Regions from separate parts of the Homo sapiens genome. Here region 1 is linked to region 2. Evidence: fine-mapped expression QTL. Tissue or cell type: whole blood. Region 2 holds a variant in brackets; the other region holds the start of a gene. All regions are shown on one strand. Distances are from middle to middle.

Region 1 (8,109 bases), 110 kb before region 2:
CAGGTTTGTTACATATGTATACATGTGCCATGTTGGTGTGCTGCACCCATTAACTCATCATTAGCATTAGGTATATCTCCTAAGGCTATCCCTCCCCCCTACCCCCACCCCACAACAGTCCCCGGAGTGTGATGTTCCCCTTCCTGTGTCCACGTGTTCTCATTGTTCGGTTCCCACCTATGAGTGAGAACATGCGGTGTTTGGTTTTTTATCCTTGCGATAGTTCGCTGAGAATGATGGTTTCCAGTTTCATCCATGTCCCTACAAAGGACATGAACTCATCATTTTTTATGGCTGTGTAGTATTCCATGGTGTATATGTGCCACATTTTCCTAATCCAAAACAGGAAACATAGGCAGTCCTCGAAAGATTCTGGAGCTGTTGAGTGGAAAGCCATCAGGAATTAGCATATCTCTCTTTCTGTCACTGTCTGTCTGTCTCTCTTCCTCTCTGTCTTTTTGTGTGTGTGTGCACGTGTGGACGTGTATGAGTGCTTTTCTCTGTTTCTCTATTCTCACATGTTGTTTCTCACCTCACCTTCATTTTGGTCATCCACTTTTGTCTTTTTCCTCCCTCAGCTGATCAGTTTTCATTACTTGACCACACTTATAGCCACATTCAATGAGTCCTCAACGGTGTCCATAGGTTATTGAAAACTGCGATGTAAAGTGAAACAACATGTAATGAAACCAGTTTTACTACAGACAAATTGATATCAACATGAGTTAAATTACTATACCATATTTCTGGTCACAAAAACATCACCAACTTCTAAAAAAAGACCAAAATACTTCTAATATTAAACAGTAAAATAAACTATACATACATTGAGTAAAGATTAATGAAAACAAGATAATTATTTACCTCCTTACTCCAGTTCAGGATCACAGGTGGCCAGATCCTACACCAGGAGCTCAGGGCATGAGGTGTAAACCAGCTCTCTTCAGGAAGCCATCCTACCGCAGGGCGCGCTCACATACCCAACCACAATCACTCAAGCAGGGCCTATGTAGACATGCCAATTCACCCAACACACAGAGAGTTGAGAAGTGGAGGGAAACGGGAGTACCCAGAGAAGACCCACATAGACATGGAAAGAACGTGCCAATTCCACATAGACATTGGCCTCTGCTGGAAATCGATTTTTTCCATCAGTGTTATAACAAAATAACGTTAAACAAAATGACCAAGGACCTGCTGTATGTTTTAGCCTCTGCTTCTGAGTGTACTTGTGTTCAGCTCAAGTAAACCCCAGAAGCAATCCTATCAATTTTACATTTCTGGAAAAGGGCTCACTCATTTAGTAAAACATGGGATGAGGAATTCATATGTTACATAAATATGTATTTTCCAGGAAGGTTACTCCAAACTGTGCAGACACTGTAATAGAGTAGTGCCAAGAAATGATGCACCTTTATATAATAAGACATAAGAGAAAGTATAATTATGTAGAATATTACCCTAGTTCTAATAACAGTAAACTGTTACATTCGACCATAATAGCTACTTTGGACCAAATGCTATTCTGAGTGCTCTTTCTCCAGATGCTCTTCCACGCTCCCAGCCACACACAGGCATGCACATACACTTTTGATTCTTTAAGTCTATGGGGTACTATTATTGTCATTTCTATTGTACAGAAAAATGAGGTTAAGAGGAGTTGAGTGTGCTGTTCAAGGTTACACTTCTGATAAATAGGTAGCAGATCTAGAATTACAGCCCAGGTGTTTTTAACCTAGGATTTGTGGACTTAATCACTGGGTTTTTCTGCCCCTTGAATTTGGTATTTTTTTTCACTCAAGCCCATCACTTTGTAAATTAACCTGACAAAAACTGAGTTATCTCCTTTTCCTAGAAAATTATCATTTGAAAATTTTCTCCTGTTAATCTTTTAATTTAAGCTATATTGTACTTATTAGCACTTGGCTTCATTTCTTCTTCCCTCTGACATTCTTATTATTTGTCTCAGTGATATTTACTGCATTTTACAAGTGCTGTCAGTCTCTATATTGCGGGGTACCATGCATCCATTGTTTTTAATGTTCAAAAATATAAAAAAGAATCTTATACCAATTTTTGATTAACTTCACGAGACATAGATTAAAACATTTTCATTACTTTTTGTTTTCCATACAGTTCTATAACTAATTTTTTTTTTTTTTTTTTTTTTTTTTGAGATGGAATCTTGCTCTGTCGCCCAGGCTGGAGTACAGAGGAGCTATCTTGGCTCACTGCAACCTCTGCCTCCTGGGCTCAAACGATTCTCCTGCCTCAGCCTCCCGAGTAGATGGGACTACAGGCGAACGCCACCACGCCCATCTAATGTTTTGTATTTTTAGTAGAGATGGGGTTTCACCATGTTGGCCAGGCTGGTCTTGAACTCCTGACCTCAGGTGATCCGCCTGCCTCGACCTCCCAAAGCACTGGGATTACAGGCGTGATATAACCAGCATTTAATTGATACATTCTTGCAGATCCAAGCCAGGTTACTGAGACTTGAAAAAAAATTCTTAAGTTGCTTTTAGTTTTTTCCATCTTTAGTCACATGGAGGGAAGTTGGGTTTTGGCACAAGTTTATTGTAAACTCATAAACTCATAAACAATCAAAAACTGAAGAAAAAAATAAGGCCCACGATACCTGAAATTGTATTTTGATGGAAGTCAGATAAGTAATGTTGTCCTCCAAGAAAGTATAAAAGTTTACTACATTTGTATAGATACTGCTAGAAAATAAATTCACAAAAGTCCTGCTATGATTTGATTCACATCAAATTACTTTGTTCCTGGTGATTTCACAAATAGATTGAGAAAACTGACATTTAATTTCTTGTCTGTTTTATTAGAATTTTTTAAGCGGAAACAAAAGACTTAACTGTACACTAAGAAATCTCTGGGTTTTCATTGTGCCTACATTATATTGCCCTTCCATACTTAAGCCTTAAGATAAAAATCACCTGTCTACCGTCCACCAAAAAGTAATATTTTATTTTTAATCCAGAAAATTGGGTGCCCTTGCTGCATTTGAAAGATGGCTACACACAAGTATTGTGTACCAAAAAGAAATTATTTCCAATATGGGTTAATATTTTTACTATGGAGATGATAAGCTTTAAAATTTTAAATGGTAATTTACCTTTCAAATTAAAAATAAAGAATTATATGAAATTAAAAAAATACTTGTTTATGCATTTGGACACCTCCTGTTTCCACCACCATGCCTAGGCCAACCTTGAACCTCCAAATTTGTGGGTGGAACCTTGGTGCCCACTTGGACCCCCAAACTATCCTCTTCAGGTAAAGGCTCTGTGAGAACCAAGTGCAAGGTGATGGATGGGAGACTCAAGGAATGAGACAGCCAGGGAAAAACTAGGACAGTGAGGTTTCATTTTCAGACATAAAAAGATGTAGAATCAGTTGAAAAAAGGACCCTGTTCCTCTGCAGAGGCAACCACACTTCTGAAGACCTTAGACCTGGCACGGTGGCTCACGCCTGTAATCCCAGCATTTTGGGAGACTGAGGGGGAAGATCGCTTGACGCCAGGAGTTCAAGGCTCCAGCGAGCTGTGACTGTGCCACTGCACTCCAGCCTGGGTGACAGAGTGAGACCTTGTCTCGAACAAAACAAAACAAAACAAAAACGAGGTTGGGGGAAGACATTAGAGCCCTCTGATCTTCTAATAACTCCCAGGTCAACCTTGGGAGTCGTGTGGCCATGTGCTAAAGCGTCCTGGGACAACTGTAAGAGCTCTGGGAATCACTGGCAAATACAGGTGACAAACCTCATGGTTTGGCTAGTGTCTAAATGCGGTCCTTTCCACTTCTGAAAACCTGTCACAGAGGCAGAAGAAAAGGCATCTACTGTTGCAACGTTAGTGTCTACTCCTCCTCCTGTCGTTCATCACTGAGATCTAAGGTGACAGGAGCATTTTCAGCGCCTTCGCCTTGGGGTGCAAACCAGTAGCGCCCATTACGCAGTTAGGAATCCGTCTGCAGATACAATCATGGGAAACTTCCCCTTCCAACGGAACCTTGTGAGGCTTCTTTTATGCGAGGTCCATCTGAGCAGTTTCTAGGATTACCAAGTTTTCATACAGCCTCTGTTAGAACAGCAAGACGCAGCGGGCGGAGAGCTACATCCCTGTAGCTTGACTCCTGGCTGTGCGACTGCACGGTGACATCCAAGGCGGCGGAGCCACTGCCGGTACACGCTGGGCTATGGGGACAGGTTGGGCGTGGCTTTCAGGTCAGCCAGCAGCCAAAATGGGAAGGGAGGAGTCGCAGACGGATTACGCGAAGGCTCTATCCCACGAAAGGACTGGGTGCACCCCAGAACGAGGACGCGGAGCTTCCCTGTTCCAAGCAGCAACAGACTGAGAAAATCCAAGAAAGGAGGCCCGAGGGGCTGCTGTGGCCCCATCCTCCTGGCACCCGCGGCCCGGGCTCTGCGACGCCTTTCGCCCCACCTGCGGAAGCAGCGATGCCTGGCGGAGCCTGCGTGCTGGTGATCGCGCTGATGTTCCTGGCCTGGGGGGAAGGTAAGCGAGGTAGGGCGCGCGGGGGTGGGCGCGCAGTGGCGCCGCGTGGGCGGTAGAGGGACTAGGCTAGACTTTTTGGACGACTTGGGGAGCGTCCCTGTGCGTTTTAAGGCAGCAAGCGATGTTTGTTCCTCACCCGCCTCCTCTCTGTCCCTCTGCTGTCTTTGAAAAGGTCAATTTCCAGCTTGAAAACTCTACACTTTTCTTTTGCGCACATGCGGTTGTTGCCTCCTCTTACTCTACGACCCTTGGTTCTGTTTTTGGTTGTTTCCTGCTGTTATCCTGCTCTTTGAGGTCATTGTAATTTACTGTAAGAAACTTTCGCCGGATCTGCAAGGTATGCTAGCCGCAAGTGGACCTGAATTCTCAGAACAGAGTTGAATTCCATACTGCACGAATTCCACCTCCAACCGGACCCTCAGAAATAATTCATTGGTGAACATTTTATCCCTACAATAAATCACCAAGTTAAGTTTTGTATATCCGTATTATACTGTATTATGGTTTTTGTATATATATGTTAGAATCAGTTTTGGCACTGTAAAAGAGATCTCTGTGGAGCGAATACTCCCCTCCTACTTCTTTAATCCATGACAAAGAACATTTAGTTTAAAATACAGTGAAGTTAAACCAAAACTACTTTCATTAGCCCTTTTTGCTTGTTTTTTGTGTTCATACAGATAGGAATATTAATGAAAGGTGACTTGTTCTTATATTGCAAGTTTCCTTACGTTTTTCAGAAAAAGTCTGATCTGTGTTCAACCATCTGCAGCTTGAAAAAACATTATGTACAACATTTATAGCAGTCCAGGGTATAGTTTTGTCTTATCATTTTTTGATCTTAACTCATTTTACTGATGTAAGTTTGCTTTGTATAAGGGGAATACAAACACTATCCTATACAAAACTTAAAAATAAAATACTAAAATCAAATTTATTATTTTCTGCAATGATATTTTTTCTGGTCCTTCTTTGGTTTGCTTACAGCGTTACTAAATCTTTATGAATAACTTTAAAAAATACATGTAATAACATATATCTGTTCATTACAGTTAGATAAATATTTCCAGGAAAAAAATGACCAATGTTTATAAAGGAAGATGATTTCATGTTTACTATAGACCGCATAACCCTTTTTTGCCTCTATATAATAGCTTTGTAATCTCTCTGCTGAAGACAAATATTACCCATTACCAGGTTTTAAGTTCATAACATTGGTAACATTGTCAAGTTCTTTATGTTTAATGGAGTAAAACTAGAAGACGAGGTAAATGGAAAATGCATTTATTGAGACTTCTTTTTTTCAAATAGCTTTATTAAGATGTTCATATACCATACAAATCACTCAAAGTGTGCGACTCTATGGTTTTTCATTTTCACAGATATGTGTATATTCAGAGTATATTTACAGGTATATGCAGCGATGACCACAGTCAATTTTAGAACATATTTATCAATCAGAAAGAAATACTATACCCTGGGCTATCATGCCGCATGCCGGCTATCACCCTCCCTTTCTCCCCAGCGATAAGGAATTACTAATCTACTTTCTGTCTCATTGCATTTGCCTATTCTGGATATTTTATGTAAACTGAATCATATAATAGGTTGTCTTTTGTGACTGGCTTACTTCATCTAGCACAGTATTATCAAGGTTCATTCATCTTGTAGCATGTACCAGTATTTCATTCCTTTTTAAGATAGAATAATGTTCCATTGTGTGGATATACTATATTTTGTATGTACATTCATTTGTTGATGAACATTTGAGTTGTTTCCACCTTTTGACTATTATAAATAATGTTGCTATAAAGCACCGAGGTACAAGTTTTGTTTGGATGTATGTTTTCATTTCTCCGAGATATATGCCTAGGAGTGGAAATACCGGGTCATAGGGTAACTCTGTGATTAACTACTTAAGGAACAGCCAGGATGTTTTCCAAAGTGGCTGTGCTGTTTTGTATTTCTGCAACAGTGTGTAAAGCTTCTAACTTCTTCATGTTTCCATCAACACTTTTTATTAACTGAGATTTGGATTCTACCTATCCTCGTGGTTGTGAAGTGGTATTTCATTGTAGTTTGATTGTCATTTTCCTAATGGCTAATGATGTCAAGCATTTTAATGCCCTTATGAGAAATTTGCTTATTCTCTTCAGAGAAATACTCAGATCTTGCCATTTTAAAAAATGAGTACTTGGCCTTTTTCTTATTGAGTTGTATAAGTTATTTGCATATTCCAGATATAATTTTCTTATTGGATATGTGATTTGCAATTATTTTCTCCCATTCTGTGGGTCGTGGAAATAATCCCCTGTGGATACTGAGGGGCTACTATACTTTAGTTTTTTTAGTTGATTCCTTAGAATTTTCTATATGGAGATGGTATTACTTATTCCTTTCCAATCTGGATATCTTTTATTTATTTATTTTGGTTAATCCCCCTGGGTAGAATTAGCTATTCTAAAGTACAATGTGGCATTGAAAAGGTGAGAGTAGACATACTTGTCTTATTCCTGATTTTATAGGAAAGCATCTAGTCTTTCTTCATCACATAAAATGTAAGCTATGGGATTTTCGTATATATCCTTTATCAAGTTGAGGAAACTTCCTTCTATTCCTAGTTTGTTGAGTGTTTTTATCATGAAAAGGTGTTGGATTTTTAAAAATGCTTTCCCTGTGTCTGTTGAGATGAACATGTGGATTTCAGCTTTTATGCTATCTATGTGGTTTATTATAGTAATTCGATTTTAGTTATTAAACCAACCTTGTTTTCCTGGAATAAATCTCACTTGGTCATAATTTTTCTATATGTATGCTTTATGTTCCTGGATTCTGTTTGCTGAAAATTTTTTCACTCATATTCCAGAGATGTATTGGTTTATAGTCAGCTTTTCTTGTTATATATATTTCTGGCTTTCCTGTCGGGGTAGCCAGGATAATGGGCTATAATACCGGGCTCGTACAATGAGGTGGAAAGTGTTCCATCTTCTTCTATTTTTTGAAAGTGTTTGAGACAAATTGGTGGTAATTCTTTTTGAAATGTTTGGTAGAATTTAGCATTGATGCCATCTGGGCCAGGTCTTTTCTTTGTGGGTAGTTTTTTGACTGATTTGATATTTTTACTTGTTATAAATCTATTTGGATTGTATTTTTCTTCTTGAGTTGGTTTTGCAGCTCCTGTCTTTTTAGAAATTTGTCAATCTCATCTAAGTTATCTATAATTATTGGCATATAGCAGTCATAGTATTCCTTAATAAGGTTTTCAGTAGTGTCCCCTATTTCATTCCTGCTTCTTGTCATTTGAATCTTCTCTCTTCTTTTCTCCATAAATCTAGTTAGAGGTCCGTCAGTTTTGTTGATTCTTTCAAAGAACCAGCTTTTGGTTTCACTGATTTTTCTCTATTGTTTTTCTATACTCAGTTCCATCAATTTTATATCCAATCTTTAAAATTTCCTTCCTTCTGCTTCCTTTAGGTTTAGAATGCTCTTATTTTTACAGTGTCTTAAGGTGCAAGGTTAACTTGATGTTCATCTTTTTCTCCTATACTATAGGCATATTCCTGTCTATACATGT
Region 2 (8,112 bases):
AAACAAATTTTAAAAGGAGGTTAAGTATGCATGGATCAAATATGAGTATTATACTAATCATTCTGAAAACAATGTTTTGATCAGAGCTGTTTCACCCTGGTGAAAGTAAGTCTTTAATGGGGGTAGGGAAGCTAAACTTCAGAAAAGAGATAGCTGTTTAGGGGAGTAGATAATGCCATGGGCTTTCAGGATTAAGGGATTTTTGGCAAAGATGCCTTATGGTGAGGAATAGAATGAAGGCAAGAACAGCAAGCATAGGTGAGACTATAAAGAGGATATCCATAAAATGTTAGTGACACTTATGTTTTGTGATCTTTAGCTTGAGGTCTCCAATTTCTTCACACTGGTGCTTCGGGTGCTCCTCTGGGTCAACAGAGGAAAGTCACTTTCCAAGGTCTTTACTCAAGTATAATGAATCCAAGAATCTATTCCAGTGACTTTCACTGCTGAAGGAGTAGAAAGAAGTACAGTGTAAGATCCCTCCCAACATGGGCGTAGAGAGAGAGAAAAGGAAGGAAGTGCCTTGATCAGAACTAAGTCCCATGGGTTGAACAGAAGTAGCCCTAGTTCATGAGGTTGGGCTTCCGACAGTTTTAGTTCCTGTTGGAAATGGGCCAAAGAAGTTACATATTTAATCAAACCAGAGGTTTCTTGGTCTAGCAAGAAATCATTAATGAGAAAAGGCCATCTATATATCTTTTTGAAGGGGATTAAACCCAGCTTCAAAGGAACATTTCTGGAAAGAAAAGTAATCCAGGGAGATGAGTGTCTTGAGAGACAGTTTTCTGAAGTGCCTTTTGATAGTATCATTAGTGTTCTATACCTTTCCTGAGGATTGTTGTCTCCAGGCACAGTGAAGATGGTATTGTATGCCTAGTGCCTTTGAGACTCCTGGCTTACAGCTACCTTGAACAAGGGACTATTATCACTCTGGAGGTACATTGGGAGTCCAAAGTGGGGAATTATCTCATTAATTAGTACTTTCATCACCTCATAGGCTTTCTCTGCTCAACATAAAAATGCTTCTATCCAGTTAATGATGGTATCTACCCATACCAGGAAGTACTGGATGTCCCTTATCTTTGGCATATGGGTGAAATTCATCTTCCAGTCTTCCCCTGGGTAGCCTCCCATTCTTGGGTTCCAGGGGGGAGAAGCTGTCAATTGAGATTATTTTTAAGGCAAGTCTCACAAGCATTAATGACCTATTTCACTATTTTTAGCAGATTTTTACCTGAGAACAACCTCTAGGCCAATGATATGTTTTATCCTTACCTAGGTAGAAGGCTTGTGAAAGATTTTAAGAACTTTCCATTGGCTGGAAGCTGAAGAAGGTGAAGTTTGCCATCTTCTGATTGTAGCTATCCTGAGGACTGAAAGGCGTATCCCTGAGAGGTGGCCTATTCTATTTCCACAGGAGAATATTGAGGTTTTGTTTCTCTTGTGGAGCCCTCCCAGATCAGAGGGACCTCAAGTGGATCAGATATCTGGGGCCCTCTCACTGCCAATTTAGCTGCTTGGTCTGCCAACTTATTTCCTTCAGCTATTTCATTCATCCCTTTTTGGTGGCCTTTAAAATGTGTTACTGCCACTTCCCATGGGAGGAAAACTGAGAATAATAGTCTGTTAATTTCCTGATGGTATTTAATGGAAGACCCATTTGCTGTGAGGAAATCCATCTCTTTCCAGATAGTGGCATGGGCATGGAGGACTAGGAAAGCATGCTTAGATTCAGCATAAATGTTAACTGCTTTCCCTTTGCTTAATTCAAGTGCCCTCAGGAGGGCAATTAGCTCAGCTAGTTGAGCACTTGTGCCTGAGGACAGGCACGCTCTCAGCAGTGTCATTCAGGCTATTGCATACCCTCCTTTATGGATCCCTTGTTCTACAAAAGAACTTCTGTTCGTAAAGAGAGTCCAGTCTGAGTTCTCTAAGGGGGTTTCTTTGAGGTACTCCTTGGCCACATAGGTTTGTGCTACTGTCTGTTTGCAGTCATATTCAAGCTCCCCAGCTTCCTTTGGGAGGAAGGTGGCTGGGTTTAGGGATGGACAGGTTCTTAACTGGACTTCAGATCCCTCTAATAGCAGAGCTTGATATTTGAGGAGGCAGTTGTCCATTTGCCAGAGACTCTCCTTAGGAGACAGCAGTCCTGCCACATTACGTGGGTATAAATCGTTATGTTATTTCCCATGGTTAACTTAGTAGCCTTTGGTACCAGCAAGTCTACTGCTGCAACTGCCCAGAGGTAGGCTGGCCATCCTTTAGCTACCAAACCAAGCTCCTTGTTTAAGTAGCCTATGTGCTGCTGGGCTGAACCTCAGGCCCAGGTTAGAACTCTCAGGGCCATTTCCTTCCTTTGTGATACATAAAGATTAAGTCTCTCCTATGGGAAGACTAAGGACAGGTGCCTCAAGCAAGGCTTCTTTGAATTGGTCAAAGGCCCTTTTAGTCTCTTGTTCCCAAATTAGGGAGTGAGTCTTAGCTGCCTGGGTCTCCCTAATAGGTGATATAAGGAATGAGCTACTTCTCCATACCCAGGTATCTATAATCTGCAGAATCCTGTAATGCCCAAGAATCCCTTCAGTTGCTTGAGGGTTTTGAGGAGGGTAAAGGAGGAGATGGGCTTAATTCTTTATTCCCCTACTGCCCTGGTCCCCTCTAACAAGACTAGACCTAGGTACTTCACTGAAGTCTGAGAGAGCTGAGCCTTAAGATTTTGAGACCTTATATCCTCTGTTAGCCAGAAAATTAAGAAAAGCCTTATTATCCTCCTCAGAGATTTCCTCAGCTGGGGCACAAAGGAAAATGTGATCTACATATTGTAAAACTTTAACCTGAGAATAAAAGAACTCAGAGATACTTTGACAACTCCTGCTCAAACAAGTGGGGGCTGTCTCACAATCCCTGAGGTAACACTGCATAGGTTAGCTGAGTGGTCTGGTTGAATGGATCCTTGAATGCAAACTAATATTGGGAGTTGGGGTGTAACAGTATGCATAAAAAGACATCCTTTATGTCATAGACTGTGAACCATTAATTCCCTTAGGTATTTGAGTAAGCAGGGTATAGGGGTTTGGGAACCACCAGGTGAATTCAAACCACAGCCTCATTAACGAGGCAGAGGTCCTGGACCAGTCTCCACTCTCTGTTGGGTTAACGTACCTCCAGTACTGGGGTATTAAAAGGGTTGTTTCAGGGTTTGAAGAAGCCCTGCATCCTCAAGTTATCAATGGTGGCTTCTAGCCCATTTCTAATTTCTGGTTTTAGGGATATTATCTCTGATTAGGGAAGAAGGTAGGGTCCTTAAGATGGATCCAGACTGGCATGGCAGTTGTGGCTCTGCCAATTTTCCCTTGAGTTGCCCAAACTTCTGGGTTAACGTTGGTCTCCACTAGGAGGAGACAAAGAGTCTGTCCCAGAGCCATAAGGATGGTGGTTCCCATATGAGCTAATATATCCATACTCAGCAGAGGAGTTGGGCTTTCAGGTATGATTTAAAAGTCTTGAGTAAACATGAGGTCTCCTGAACTACAACTAAGAGGTGAGGAAAAATATTGGGTTAAAGGCTTTAGCTGACTCCCCAGCTGGAGGCACCTCCGGGGTTTGGAATTGCCCTTTGCAACTTATAACCCAGCTAGGCCCTAGTGCAAAGGAACATAAGGCATTTTTTTAATCTGAGGGTCAAAGGACTCCCAGTGATTCAGGATGCACTCAAAAGGAGTACAGGCTGAAAATGGTTTGTTACCCATTTGAAAGAGAGGGTAAAAGGCATCCCTTAGCTCCTTTCTCTCTTTCAGTGAAAACCCAGGGCATGTGAGGAAAAAAAAAAAGTGTCCTTTCCTTCCCCAAGTCTTGGCAACCTCTATAGGTGCCACCCTTTCCTTCCCTGAGTTGTGGCAGCTTCTATAGGTGCCATGCATGAATACAAGTGTGACCTCTACCAATGAAGTGGGAATGCATAGTTAGTAGGGGTAGTCGCACTTACCTATGCTGTGCCCTAGCCTTCTGCTGTCGGTAACCTTTGGGTTTGCTAGACCCCATCTGTGCTATGAATGTGAGCAAGTTCTTCACCCATGAAATGGTAAGGAGTAGTCAGCAGCAGTAGTCGTGCTCGCTTGCGCTGCACTCTAGTCTTCTGCTGTTGACTGCCTCTGGGTCCCTCAGGACTCCAAAGCTTGGAAAATATACTGGAGTGATGTTAAAGTGAAGCTGTAAAACCAGATGCTCCTCAAACAAGGGACAGAAAGCGAGTCCCAGGAATTGGGGCCTAATAAGATGTCTCCCAAAAGGAAAAAATTAATCCCTCACATAGAAAAGCTCCCTGTATTCACAGGACTATATTGACTACTGACATGGTGGGAAAAAATAAAAACCTTAAATGCAGGGGAGGGAAGGTGCCTGGGGGAAAGTAGCCTCTTGCCCTATGCTAATGGGTTTCCTCAACAGGGGAAAGAAAACTCTCAATCATTACATCCTCCTTGCTTCTAAGAATAGACAGAAAACACATTGTTCTGAATTACGCTCCTGATGACTAAGCCAAATGCACATTCTACCCACTTATATTATCTCTGTGCTTTGCAACAACACCCTTAACATTGTATTAATATATAAAGAAAAGATAAAAGCCACTAAAGCCATGAAAGAAAGAAGGATAATGCCATAG[A/G]AAAGACTGGAGGTCCTAACACCAACACCCTAATGGGATGTTGGTGACTGGAGTCAGTCCAGTGGCCTTTTGGGTAACATCAAAGTATAGCCTCAGCCAGATAATTGCCCCAGAACTTCCTTCCAATTCCATGCAATGGCTAGACCTCCATGAAGAAAACTGGATTGAAGCAAAGCCAACATTCCCAACACCCAAGGGCGATGGGTGATTGACAAACCCCTCCCCAGCAAGCCTGTCCTCTGAAGACATGCCATTCACTCTTAACTGGCTAACAGAGGCCCAATGCCTCATCTGTTTTTGGAAAAAAAAAAATCTCCATACAAGAAGCCTTGGAATGAAAGTGAAAGAGGTCCACTCTTATTCACCCTTCTGCCAATCCCAGATGAGCCCCTGGAAATGTTACAGGATGTTTTTCAGTGCTGCTCTGCCAGCCGGAAATCTCTGCAGCTGCTGTGACCTCTTCCTGAAGCCTCACTGAGGCCCACTGGGCTCACTCCACCCACTCAGCCCTGGAGGCTGAGCTTGGCTCATGCAATGGCTCAGATCTTGTGCCCGCCATGAGATCCACATTCAGCCTGTGGCTGGACTGGGCAGGCTGTGACCAGCTTCCACCTTGGGCACCGGCATCTGGATGAGAGGAACATGGTGGTGCCCCAAATTTGGATATGCCAACAACCATAGAGCCCCAAGGGGTGTTACAGCTCTCGCCCAGGGAGTCCCGAGGTCTGAGTCCCCAAGAAGTGTTACAGCTTACTCTTGTTCCTGTGGCCTGCAGCTCAGGGAATGGGGCCATATCACAGCTCCTTCGGTCCTGCTGCCTGCGGCTCAGTGAATGGGGGTGTGTCACAGCTCATTCAGTCCCACTGCCTGAAGTTCAGTGAATGGGGGCGTATGGCACCCAGCAGTTTTTTTCACTCCCATAGGTTGGTGAGTGGGAGTGCATGTTATAGCTCTTTTCACACCCACAACTTGGTAGGTTCTAGGTTCTTTCCCCATGATGAAGAGGAATGAGGTATGCAGACAGCAGAGAGTGAGCAAGGCTGAGAAGAATTTTACTGAGTGACAGGAAAGTTCTTGACATGAGAGGGGAACAGAAGTGGGTACCTCTGTGTGTGAGAGGGGGCCCAAAAGCAGGTAGTCACCTGTGAGGCTGAGTCTAGGGCTTTTATGGGCTCAGAATTGGGGAGTGCATGCTGATTGGTTCGTGGGCAGGCCTGGAAAAAGCACCATTCGATTGGCTAAAAGACATCGAGGAGGTTCTTACTCTGGTCATGTACTCTACCTGGAACTGGAAGCTCAGTTTTCAGGCATCAGGCTGTCTTTGGCTTGAAGATCAGGGTTCAACAGGGACCTGTTCGTCTGCCTAGGAATTTAACTGTCTCCTATTGCTATCATCGAGACACCAAAATGTCTACAAGTGTAATCATTTATCATGATCTACATGGCTGCTGATATGGTCTAAATTACCCTTAAGATCCCACTTTAAGGTCCGTAAAATACTGCTAAGTAAAAATCCACTGTGACACACTTACTCCTCTCTTGCTGAGATGCCCTGCTGCACTCTTCTGCAGTGTTCTTTCTTTCTTTCTTTTCTTTCTTTCAATAAAACTTTCCTTTCCAAAACTATACCATTGTGGGTAAATTCTTTTTACTATCTGCGAGCCAGTCACTTTCCATTGCTGGGGCTCTGGTACATCACCCAACACAAATCAGTCTTCCAAAAACTCAGGGATCAGGGTTTTAAAGGATAATTTGGTGTGTAGGGGGATGGAAAGTAGGGAGTGCTGATTGGTCAGGTCATTGATGAAATCATAGGGAGTCAATGCTGTCCTCTTCTGATAAGTTGATTCCTGGGTGGGGGTCGCAAGACAAGTTGAGACAGTTAGCAATCTGAGTGATGCCAGCTTATCCATCTAATGCAGTGTCTGCAAAAGATCTCAAGCACTAATCTTAGGTTTAACAATAGTGATGTTACCCCCACGAGCAATTTGGAAAGGTTCAAAATCTTGCAGCCTCTAGCTGCATGAGTCCTAAACCATAACTTCTAATCTTGTAGCTAATTTGTTAGTCCTGCAAAGGCAGTTTAATCCCCAGGCAGGAAGGGGATTTGTTTTGAGAAAAAGCTGTTATTGTCATTTCAAAGTTAAACTATAAACTAAGTCCCTCCCAAAGTTAGTTCGGCCTACACCCAGGAATGAACAAGGACAGTTAGAGGTTAGAAGCAAGATGAAGTCAGTTAAGTCAGACCTATTTCACTGTCATAATTTTCTGTATAATTTTTGCAAAGGTGGTTTCAGTTTTTGAGCCTCAACACTTTAAACCAACAAAATTATATATTTTCAATGTGCAGAGGAAATGGCAAATATGAATATTTCTAAAACCAAATGCAATTTATTCTAATTTTAAGTGAATTGACTAGATTATAACACGAAGGGAATGTGAAACAGCACTCTCTGTATTGCTTAGACAGGGAACAACATAAACAATAGATCTGTCTAAAAAATGTGTAACTGGACTCAGTAAACTAGACACCTGTTATCAATTATTAAGGACACATGTAAAGGGAATTGTTCAACATACTTTCCTTCCTCCCACTGCCTTATAGTCTTAAAGGTTCTTTGTTCCTTCTGATTTATTGCCCTGTTTATGTATTTCAGCCCCAGAGTCATAGTTAAGGGGACAGCTAAAATTAAGGTACTAAGGAATAGTCTGTCAGTCTTTGCCCCGGGGTAGAAGGCTGCTATAAAGCAAATGAAAAATGAGGCATCATTAAGAATAAATTGTAGGTTTTGAGTATGTTCCTTTATTCTCAAAATGGGTTTTCTTTTTTGAGAATAGCCTCTTTCCATTTGAATTGGCTTGTATTATAAGCTGATTGTGGCATTCTGTTTTCATCTGAGTCTGCCCAGATGTTCCCTTCATCTACAGGATAAATTTCTACTTCATATACAAAGCTCTGTATTTTGAAGCCCTATCTGATGAGTTAGGTTTCAAAATCCTAGAAAAGTTCTCAGAAACTTATGACAGTTATTTTTGTTAAATTTATGCTGTCCTTTCTAATATGAACATAACTTTTGTTAAATTTTTCTTTTAAGCTTTGAAAATTTTTTGCATAAATTCATTGAATTTTACATTTAAAAGCAGTATCTTTATATTAAAAATTGTAACCTTAATAGTTAGCTTTGAAATGTGTTTTAATAGCTCTTTTTCACTTTTTATTTCCACTGGTGATTAAAAGAATGTTTTTAATATTTAGTTTCTTTATAAATATATTTAATTGATAAATACAGAAAACCATATATGAGTATGAATTAAACATCACACGGTTGTGACTAACCCCTACTGACTCCAATGGGGATGGCACTATGTCCAAGAGGACAGAGGAGACCCAGACCCAAAGAACAAAGACATAGGGTTTATGGAGGACTTACGTATGGGGCAGTCAAGGA

The links. PIP is the estimated chance that this variant, and not a neighbour inherited with it, causes the effect.
Region 1: VWDE starts here. The variant in region 2 is fine-mapped to the expression of VWDE in whole blood (TOPMed, PIP above 0.99).

What each region holds. Positions count from the first base shown.
Region 1 is chr7:12,400,085-12,408,193 of GRCh38, reverse strand. VWDE (von Willebrand factor D and EGF domains) reads left to right here and starts at 4,329. Exons shown (of 29, transcript NM_001135924.3): 1 at 4,329-4,535. The coding sequence starts at 4,478. It overlaps LOC105375154 (a long non-coding RNA gene), which reads right to left and starts at 2,056. Exons shown (of 3, transcript XR_927035.4): 1 at 865-2,056; 2 at 538-656; 3 at 1-378. RefSeq lists silencers at 3,407-3,596, 4,534-4,583, 4,477-4,771 and enhancers at 3,908-4,473, 4,474-5,041.
Region 2 is chr7:12,287,356-12,295,467 of GRCh38, reverse strand. No RefSeq gene overlaps it. Among named protein-coding and RNA genes, the nearest start is that of TMEM106B, 80 kb to the right of the region's middle. The variant A/G (reference allele first, on the strand shown) is at 4,664.